Linked DNA regions of Homo sapiens: region 1 is linked to region 2. The links come from fine-mapping of genetic effects on gene expression. Tissue or cell type: whole blood. Region 2 holds a variant in brackets; the other region holds the start of a gene. All regions are shown on one strand. Distances are from middle to middle.

Region 1 (5,292 bases), 240 kb before region 2:
CAAGAGCCAGTCCTCAGAACTACCCCCCGACCAGGTAATCTTGACATTCATATCCCTGAATGAAGTACCTGGTCAGTGATCTCTGCTCTGGGGCTGCTTCAAAAACCAACCTCTCCCTCCTGCCTTCTTCCCTGTTGACCAAGAGGGTGGCCAGAACAAACAATGGAGCAGATAAGTTGGCTCTGAGCCTGGGACTCTGGCCTCTGCTGTTTGGATCCTGGGGGGCCGATCTAGCCCAGTCGAGGCGAAGACACAGCGTCCACGCCTTTCCGTGCTCTTCTTCCTTTTCTGCTCTAGCAGCCCCCCACGCCCCCTTAGCCCTTTTTGCAGATACCCTGTGTTTCCAACCTAGGTGTGAATCAACTCCTGTTTTAATATGCACTGGGAACATTCGCTCTTTCAAGGAACGAGATGATGATTCATTCCATAAAGTTAAAAATCCTTTGGTAAACTGTTAACAATGGTTACTTTTGGGAAGAGGGACTGTGATAGGGGAGGAGGGAGAAGTCTGTGTTTTATTGTACTTTTTTTTTTTTGAGATGGAGTCTCGCTCTGTCACCCAGGCTGGACTGCAGTGGCACGATCTTGGCTCACTGCAACCTCTGCCTCCCAAGTTTAAGGGATTCTCCTGCCTTAGCTTCCCGAGCAGCTGGGATTACAGGCTGCGCCACCATGCCCTGCTAATTTTTGTATTTTTAGTCGAGGCGGGGTTTCACTATGTTGGCCAGGCTGGTCTCGAACTCCTGAGCTCAAGTGATCCACCTGCCTTGGCTTCCCAAAGTGCTGGAATTACAGGTGTGAGGCATCGCGCCTGGCCTTGGTAATTTTTTTTTAAGTGTTCTATAGCTCAAAAGTTTTAGATTTGTTTTTTCTTTAAATAAGGTAGGTGCTAGGAAAGGGGTGCAGAACAAAATGGGGGAGCAGGTGATTCTTGGGAAAGTGTGAGTCTGTGACTGTGTGCTTGGGATGTGTTGTGGCGAGGCTGCCTCTGCCATGGGGTTGAGTCATTATCTGGGCACCTGTGTGTGTGTATTAGAGAGAGCAAGAGAAAATGCTGGTGCCCAAGTCTCCGCTTTGTGTTTTCACATGTCTCTGCCTGTCTGGATGTCTGCACATGCGGCTCCACCTTTCTGTGTCCATTATATGAGTGCCCATGTCTGTGGTTCCTCTGGCTGTCTCTTCCCTCCCCCACGGCCTGTACTCTGTGCCGGTAACTGGACCTGGACACAGCCCCCAGGGCTGGCAGCAGAGTTGACTGCTGGGTATTTTTAGCCTGTAAACATGTTTGCCATTTCAGAGGACAGGGCCGAGCTGGTCTCAGCTCCAGCCCACTCATGATCTTGCAGCAAGGAGGGCGCTCCTGCCTTGGCCAGGTCTCCTTAGTTCCCCAGCCTGGGGTCTCTCTTTCCTTAGCATTTGGGAAGGAGGGGAAACTGGCTTGGAGCGGGCAGTGGGTGGCCACCTAGGAGGGAGGATAAAAGGACTCATGAGGGAGAAGAGAAAGGGAGTGTGGAGGGGAGTGTGTAGCCAGAAGGCCCCCGCACCCCATCATTAAACGTTTAATAAAATCTCGATGTAGTTAGAAGTGGCTGTGGGAAATCGCTGTAAATTAGGAGACTCAGCGTCCCGCAAGTGGGGAGGCGGGGGCGGCGCTCAGAGAAGGAATGGGAGGCAGAGGAAGCGCTGGGGCTCTGGCTCCTGGGGGCGGGAGTCTGGAGAGGAAGGTGGGCGTCGGGTCCGCTGTCCAACGCCCGGGGTCCTCACCCCCGTATGCCCGCGGCCTGCGCAGCACCGCGGTGCGCGAGGCACTGGTGACCCCGGCTCCTGGGGGGTGGAAATCCAAGCCAGTTCTGTGCGGATATGGACGGAGGGGCCCCCAGAAAGAGAGAACGCGAGAAATGGGCGCGGCAGCACGGAGCTTGGGAACCAAGCAAGGAGGCTGGGGCCTGGGATCTGAAGTGTAGTTGCCTAAGCTGAGAGAAAACTCAAAGGTCCGGAGCAAGCTGACGGTCGCGGCTGAATCACCCAGCCACCTTCAGAGCCCCCAGGCCCTTCCTGCAAAATAAGTTGATTCGCAGTTCCAGCTGTGAGGGTGAGCCCAGGGAGCCTGCAGGAGTTTCTTGCCAATGAAGCCACACAGTGCACATGTTGGAGAGCAGGTCCAGGTCCGGGACAGGACAGGGGGCAGTGGATGCGGGGAGGGGGGGAAAGAATGTCCCCGCGTCCCCCAGCGGCCCCCCTCCCCAGCAGCCCACTCCCGGGTCCCTCCAGGGTCTGCCCCGCTCGCCAGTCCCAGCCCCGCTCCGGCCCCGCCCGGCCCCGCCCTCTCCCCACAGCTCCGGGCAGACCCGCCCGCCCGAGCCGGAGTTACAAGAGCCGCCTCCGCGCACGGGGGCCCGGCCACTCGGAGCTGCTCTGCCGCGGGGACTGCACCGCCCGCCCTGCCAGACCCGCCCGGAACGGGGCTCGTCGCCGCCAGTAGCCGCAGCACCGCAGCCTTGGGCCTCGCGCCGGCTATGGCCGTGCCCTGGGGCTGAGCCCTCAGGTAGGGGCGCCAGGCGCACCGTGGCGCCATCGGGGTCCGGGGCACCAAGGGCGGGTCGCGGGGAGGTGGGTTGCGGTGCTCCGGCAGGGCGCGTTGTTGGGGGTGTCACTGTGAGGATTCAAGCAGTTTGGAGCAAGCGGGGCCACCCGGGGCGGCGACGCGTCGCTCTCTGGGAGCGGAGTTCTGCCTCTGGAGTTGGGGCGCAAGTTGGTTAAAGTTGGAAAATCGCTCCGAAGTGCTTTGCTCCACTCTTTATTTCTCCGGAGGGCGGACTGTTGGCTCCACTGCAAGGCAGGGCGCCCCGTTCCGGGCCTGGTGGCCTCTGTCCCACCTCCTCTCCCTGCATGGGGCGGTGGCTCGGGGGCTGCTCCGTTCGTATCCCATGTTTACTGGAGGGGAAATTTCCGAGATCGCCACCGCGGCCCCCAGCGCCTCCGCGCCTCCGCGACCCCGCACCGTGCGCCCCCTCGGCTGTCCTTCCGCGCTCCCTGCACCTCTGCCCCTAACCGCGTCCCGAGTCGTCCAGGCCCCACCCTGTTCTGTACCACCAGCCCCTCAGCCTCCTCCAGCTGCCCCGCCCTAGCCTTGCCTCTCCGCGTTCCCCGCTCCAGAAAACCTTCCTCTCGGGCCGCGGAACCTGGAAGTTTGCAATGCGCCTCCCAGCGGGATGGGTGGGGAGGGGGACAAAATTAGGGAGATTCCTATGCTGAGGTGGGCGAGGAGGGGGGTGCGCTGCGGCGGCCCAGTCCTCGGGACCGCCCCTTCCCCTCCGGAGGCGGCGCTTTCCCCCCGCCCAACTCCCAAACCCGTCCGGGCGGGATGGCCCCCGCCCCAGAGCCTGGCCCGGCGCCAGCAGCCTGAGGAATGTGGTGGTTGGAGCCGGTGACTAATTCAAACCAGAACTCAGGGAGGAGTGGTGAGGGGCAAAGGGGAGGAGGAAGGGGCTGTGTGTGGGAGTTGGGGGCAGGAGCCGGGCTTGGCGTGGGAGGAGGGCTAAGCTGCGCTCGCTGGAACCCTGCGCTCCAGCGGTGCGCGCCAGGAGAGGGGGCCCGAAGCGAGGTCTCGCCTAGAGTTGGAAAGGCAGCGTGCTTAGGGTGTGTGCAGAGCTGTGTTATGTAAGGCTTTCCCATGCAAGGGGAGGGGGTGTGTGTGTGCAGTGTGCGAGGGCCTGGGCCGTCCCTGGCAGGGCTGGTCGCCCCCCAGCAGTGCCCAGGCCGGGATGTGGGGGCGCAGCCCCTTGGCGGCGCTGACCATGAGGGACTCCAGGGGCCCAAACAGGGCTGGCTGTGCCCCTTGCTGGGAGGGGTGCGGAGGGGGCAGATGGGTGTTCTCAGCTGTAGCCGAGGCCCCACAACAAGGTGGGGAACGGCTCTGGCCCCTCTGCACAATGAGGCCACTGAGGGTTGTGTGCGATGTGTGTGCTTGCCGGTTTCGCAGGGTGTGGCTCCCGCCGCGGCGACCGTGGCAGTGAGGTGCTCCCAGGGAGCGTGCGGTCGCTGCAGAGTGCCCTGCTCTGTGGAGGGGATTTGTGGAAAGGCAGTGTGGGAGCCTCCCAAGTCAGTCAGGTCCTTAGACCTCCGGAGTCTCCGGAGGAAAAGGGACCGAGATATCTACCTCTGTGTCTCCAGCACAGCGCTGGGCGCTCAGTAAATACTGGTTTCGAACCCGTCTTCATTAGAATCCAACCTCGGATTGCAGGGCTCCTGCTCTCTGCTTGCCCGTCCCAGCACAGCCTAGTGCATGGTAGGTGTTGGGTTGATTTTGTGGAATACAGTGAGGGGCTGCAGCAGTGAAGCTGAGAGTGGGGGAAGGCGTTTAAGGGCCCCTGCACCTATACTGGCTGTAATTCAGGGTAGAGATCTCGCTTTCATCCCCTCCCCGTGAGGGAAATCCCAGGGGCAGGGTGTGGCACTCACTTCCTTTCAGAAGCTGAATGGGGGGAAGCTTCCTTCTCCAGTCCTTAGGGACAGCGGGGTCACCCACCCCCCACCGCGTGGATAGTGGCCTGTGCAGAATGGGGAGGACAGGGGAGCCCCCAAGTTAGGGGCACCTCTTTGCTCTGAGCTGTGAGCTTTGGGGTGAGGGAGGGTGGGAGAGGAGCTAGGGAGGGTAAGAGTGGAGCTAGGAGAGGTCGCAGGGTTTGGGGGCTGTGGGAATGTGGGTTAGAGGGTGTCTGAGCCCCTCTCTAAAGCCTTTGTCCCTAAGAGGTTATGCACAGGGACACTGGTCAGAGAACAGGGACACATGGGGAGCCACATAAGTCATGCGGGCTGATATGGAGGCCCACAGCAGCGATTCAGGGGTCCTGGTCCGGGAACTCCTTGAGGAGCCAACCCCTCGGAGCTGAGGACTTGTGGCAGCCAGACATGGTCCAGGGCCAGGGGTGGGACACAGGGACCTGTTGAGGGAGAAGGTCCAGCGTCAGCCCAGGGTACGGAGTTGGCTGGGGGTCCCCGGAGTCATCTTAGCCCTCAGGAAGTCCTGGGGAAAGGTGGCGGTGCTGCCAGGCTGGATTCTTTTGCTCGACTTGGAATTGGCTGGTGGGTCCTGGCAGAGCCGGTCACCCTGAGCCTGAGGAGCTGGTTTGAGGGGTTGGGGCAAAGCCGTGGGGGCGGAGGGGTGTGTGGGGCTCTGGGGTGTGGTCACCACCTTCTTTAGAACTTGGGAACTGCCTGGAGACAGACAGAGAGACAGACCGGGAGAGCTAGTCCTACTCCTTATGGGAACAGTGTGGCTCTCTCCCCCAC
Region 2 (5,692 bases):
TTGACACTATGAAGAAACTGCATCAACTAATGAGCAAAATAACCAGCTAACATCATAATGACAGGATCAAATTCACACATAACAATATTAACCTTAAATATAAACAAGCTAAATGCCCCAGTTAAAAGACATGAACTGGAAAATTGGATAGAGTCAAGACCCATCGGTATGCTGTATTTCAGGAGACCCATCTCATGTGCAAAGACACACATAGACTTAAAATAAAGGGATGGAGGAATATTTACCAAGCAAATGGGAAGCAAAAAAAAGCAGGCATTGCTATCCTGGTATCTGATAAAACAGACTTTAAGCCAACAAAGATCAAAAGAGACAAGGAGGGGATTACATTATGTAATGTAACAAGAAGAGCTAACTATCCTAAATATATATGCACCCAATACAGGAGCACCCAGATTCATAAAGCAAGTTCTTAGAGACCTACATAGAGACTTAGACTCCCACACAATAATAGTGGGAGATTTTAACCCCTCACTGTTAATATTAGACAGATCAACAAGACAGAAGGTTAACAAGGATATTCAGGACTTGAACGCAGCTCTGGACCAAGTGGACCTAACAGACATCTACAGAACTCTCCACCCCAAATCAACAGAATATACATTCTTCTCAGCACCACAATGCACTTATTCTAAAATTGACCACATAATTGGAAGTAAAACACTCGTCAGCAAATGCAAAAGAATGGAAATCATAACAAACAGTCTCTCAGATCACAGTGCGATCAAATTAGAACTCACGATTAAGAAACTCACTCAAAACCTGCACAACTACATGGAAACTGGACAACCTGCTCCTGAATGACTACTGGGTAAATAATGAAATTAAGGCAGAAAATAATAAGTTATTTGAAACCAATGAGAACAAAGACACAATGTACCAGAATCTCTGGGACACATTCAAAGCAGTGTTTAGAGGGAAATTTACAGTGCTAAATGCCCGTAAGAGAAAGCAGGAAAGATCTAAAATCGACAGTATAACACCACAATTAAAAGAACTAGAGAAGCAAGAGTGAACAAATTCAAAAGCTAGCAGAGAATGAGAAATAACTAAGATCAGAGCAGAACTGAAGGAGATAGAGACACGAAAAACCCTTCAAAAAATCAATGAATCCAGGAGCTGGTTTTTTGAAAAGATCAACAAGATAGGTAGACCGGTAGCCAGACTAATAAAGAAGAAAAGAGAGAAGAATCAAATAGGCACAATAAAAAATGATAAAGGGGATATAAGCACTGATCCCACAGAACTTCAAACTACCATTAGAGAATACTATAAACACCTCTATGCAAATAAACTAGAAAACCTAGAAGAAATGGATAAATTCCTGGACACATACACCTTCCCAAGATGAAAGGAAGAAGTTGAATCCCTGAATAGACCAATAACAAGTTCTGAAATTGAGGCAATAATTAATAGCCTACCAACCAAAAAAGTCCAGGAATGGACAGATTCACAGCCGAATTCTACCAGAGGTCCAAAGAGGAGCTGGTGCCATTCCTTCTGAAACTATTCCAAACAATAGAAAAAGAGGGAATCCTCTCTAACCCGTATTATGAGGCCAATATCATCCCGATGCCAAAACCTGGCAGAGACACAACAAAAAAAGAAAATTTCAGGCTAATCTCCCGGATGAACATCGATGAGAAAATCCTCAATAAAATACTGGCAAATTGAATCCAGCAGCACATAAAAAAAGCTATCCACCACGATCAAGTCAGCTTCATCCCTGGGATGAAAGGCGGGTTGAACATATGCAAATCAATAAATATAATCCATCACATAAACAGAACCAATGACAAAAACCACATGATAATCTCAATAGATGCAGAAAAGGCCTTTGATAAAATTCAACAGCCCTTCATGCTAAAAACTCTCAATAAACTAGGTATTGATGGAACATATCTCAAAATAATAAGAGCTATTTATGACAAGCCCACAGCCAATATCATATGAATGGGCAAAAGCTGGAAGCATTCCCTTTGAAAACTGGCACAAGACAAGGATGCCCTCTCTCACCACTCCTATTCAACACAGTATTGGAAGTTCTGGCCAGGGCAATCAGGCAAGAGAAAGAAATAAAGGGTATTCAAATAGGAAAAGAGGAAATCCAATTGTCTCTGTTTGCAGATGACATGATTGTATATTTAGAAAACACCATCAACTGACAAAGAAGTGTATTTATCTCTGTGGTTTACAATAACTTTACCCTTCACCTTTTATTTTTGGTGAAAAACCTGGTTAGTAAGCAATTTTAATTATGTTCCAGCTGTGGATCCTAGGACCCAGACAGAAGTGCAGATAAAGTCTGACTTTTCAGCTTCTAGCTCCATGAGTCCCAGGCCTTACCTATGTGTAAAGCAGGCAGTATATGACCTTGCAACATTTAGCAAACCTGGTATCTAAATTATATGATTTAGACAACCTATTTGCATTTTGATGACACTTGCCTTTTACTAATAATCCTTCAGACTATTTTTATTTCTTCAAGTCATGTGAACTAAAACATTTGATTGAAGCACTTATTTTTCTTTAAGCCAATCAATCAGAGCTCTTTTTATAGACATCACACACAGCACATATATAGCAACACTAAGAAACAGAAGATTCAGCACTTGTAAGATTTTTCACTTGGTAGTCTCTTAATTGGATTACTGGCTTTAGGGTGGAGCCCTTGAAGGAACAGGGCTATGTAGCATACCTAATAAACAGACGCAGCTGAAGGCAAAGGCAGATCCCTAAAATTAAGGGTGCCATTTTATACCTGATCTTGGGTCCCTAAAAGGAGGGAGATACTATGGGAGAAGACAGTGTAGTGGTTCTATCACGTATTTCACTGCAAGGGAACCCAAAGCCAATTGGCTTATTCTGTAATGAGCCCATTCCCCATGGGAGTCTCGTCTCTTAGTTGGGGGTGAGGATGTTGCCATATCTTTCAGGTGGCCAAGAGCACGCTTCTTTGATTATAACTACTATTAGCCATCCCTAACATTGAATTTTCTATCTAGTTATTACACACCGAAGCTCTCTCATAGTGTGAAGTAATTTGACACCCCCAAAACTCAAAATGGTAGATTACACAATACATAACAGAACAGAGCCTTTGATTTTGAGAAGTAACTGCTTTTAATTTTGGGGGTTTCATGAGGAAAACAGTTTTTTTTTTTTCCCCAAAATGGGGTCTGTGGTGCCTCCTCTGTTTTTCCCAAGGAGTCCCATGCTACCAGAAGTTATCTTAGGGCTTCTCATGCTTGCATTAAGAATGGTAAGATGAAAAATGGAGAAAAATAATTCAGTTGATTGAAAAGAAAAGAGCCTTTTTCCCAAAAAACAAGATTCAACAAGAGAAAAGCATAAAGACCTTTTCAATATACCTATAACTTGAACATATCCACTTTTAATTAAGCTGAGCACTTTTAAAGAAAATCCTTTTAAATTCCTTGTTACTTGAGATTGCTGCAAATGAGAGGTGCATGGTTCCAGCAGAGTCTATGAAGGGGAGTATTGAACAAGTCATCGGGGTCAGGCAACGATGTCCATGGATGGAAAGAATAAACTAAAATCTTGAGTCAATTGTGTAAAAAGGAGGGAGCCATAAAAAGCATCAATGATG[A/G]AAACAAAAAAACCCTGCATAGGTGTTAATCGTGGTAGGACTAATAAAAGTATACGCAAACAATCCTCTGTCAGAGATACACATGCTCCCCAATGGACTGTACAGATGACAAGGTGAATGTCAAGCCTGAGTGAGGATAAACTCTCATCCACAAAAAGGGTGGATGCTTCACAGACCTGTCTACTGCAAAAGAGGCCTCAGTCCTGAAGCCCATATTCATGGGTTTGCAGCCTCCAAGACCATGAGCTGGGTTTCCTTTTCCATTTATGTCAAAGAGAAATGGTGTATCTAGGTGTCCGTGTAGTTCTGCAAGTAGGTGATTTAGTGGATTTTGGCTGTGCTCTAAACTAGGAACTACTGGCAAACCATGACATATATGACAAATGGGACAAGATAATGGCAGTTTACATTGAGAACTACTATGTACCAGAACTTGGTATATTTTAAACACACACACACCCATGAACACACTCATTTGATCATCTATCAACCCAATGATGTAGGCACCATTAGTAGCCTACTTTGACAAATGAGAAAACTGGGGTTACATAAACTGAATAATTTTCCTAAGGTCCAGGAGCCCATAAATGAGGATCTGAACCCTCATAGCTGTAAACCTCACCACCAACCCTCCCCCTCCTTGGTGGCAGCAGGGCTGATTCAGGGACTCCGTCGTCATCCTGTGTGATGAAAGTGAGATCCACTGTTGCCCTCAGCTTGGACTCAACTAAATCTGTCAATGTGTCTTTGATGACAAAACCCGTAAGGTCCCCTTCCTTCTTAAAGGTTTTCCTGGCTGGATCTCAGCCCTGCTGTCTGTGAGAAACACCAGAGCAGTTTAAACAGTACAGAAAGGAGGGATTCACCCCAATGCTACTGAATCAAAATCGCCAGAGAGAGAAGCCTGTGGGGTCAGTATGTTTTAAAAGCTCCAAGTGATTTGACTACATAGCTGAGAATGGAAAGCTATGGCCTGGGCTGTGACTCCTCTCAAATGTAAGTTTATTTAAGAGAAAAATTTCTGGTGATTAAACTCACACCACATGAAGGCACGGCAATGGGAGGGAAGGCGGGTGTGTATTGCTTTGTCTGGGGGCTTCCTTCACTTTCCCTTAAAAATGGGATTGGCCCAGGCAGCACAGATAGGTTTGAAGTGGAAAACTTGAGCCTAGGGGTTAGGGGGAAGTGACCACCCACCCTGTTCCTCTGTCTCTTCCCTTCTATTATCTTCCCAGCCTAGAGCCCCACTGATGTATGATTGGCTCTGAACACTCCAAAAGCTCTTGAGAAAAAGAGTTAGGTTATTTAATCTTCAGATCAGCCCTAAGATAAGACGTGGGTGGCTACACATCACAGAAAGCTTGCTTTTTATAGATAGAAAATGTGAATCTTGGCCATATATATAACTGCACGTATAAACAAGATTCAGGTTTGGGAGTGAGGCAGGCTAGAGAACAGGTGCAGCAGATGTTTTTCCTCAGCATATCTTCTACAGGTGGGATGTATTCAACTATGTTTTCAGTACCTATGCAGTGAACATGGTGGTGATGGAAGGGGCTGAGGGGAAGGATTAGACTTTCCCAATGTGCAACTGAAACAAGCCTGCTTGTTGTCAGACATGCAGGGGGATCAAAGCAGGGTCTCCTTATGTCCCTGCTCTCCCATAAAGAGAACACAGCCTTCCAGCTTCCTGTGCCTTGTGAAGCCATAATTCACCTGTGCCCCTGCACTGCTACAAAGATAAAAAGAACTAATCAGCAAAAGCTCATAAGGAAATTGAGGATCCCAGGAACATTTCCAGATGTACCTGAACACTCACCTGGAGCACAGAGCAGAGTTCTCACAAGGCTGCTGTCTTGTGCTCCGCCCCACTCAGATGCAGAGATTCCTAAGGAGGTGACATTGATGGACGGCAGCAGCCCTGGCTTGGAAGGGCGGGCTGGGAGCCAGGCCTCATGACCTACCAGGTGCCCCGGTAGGTAGGACCAGCCAGGCTCCCTAGGTACAAATAGCCCTGGCCTCCATGACTACACAGGCTCCTGGAGTCGAATCCAAATCACTCAT

Evidence for each region. PIP is the estimated chance that this variant, and not a neighbour inherited with it, causes the effect.
Region 1: AHNAK starts here. The variant in region 2 is fine-mapped to the expression of AHNAK in whole blood (INTERVAL, PIP 0.93).

What each region holds. Positions count from the first base shown.
Region 1 is chr11:62,543,913-62,549,204 of GRCh38, reverse strand. AHNAK (AHNAK nucleoprotein) reads left to right here and starts at 2,399. Exons shown (of 5, transcript NM_001620.3): 1 at 2,399-2,545. RefSeq lists enhancers at 1,762-2,292, 2,871-3,381, 3,382-3,892 and silencers at 2,248-2,417, 2,538-2,607, 2,888-2,937, 2,948-3,067, 3,598-3,727.
Region 2 is chr11:62,299,045-62,304,736 of GRCh38, reverse strand. SCGB1D4 (secretoglobin family 1D member 4) reads left to right here and starts at 5,662. Exons shown (of 3, transcript NM_206998.2): 1 at 5,662-5,692. The variant A/G (reference allele first, on the strand shown) is at 3,629.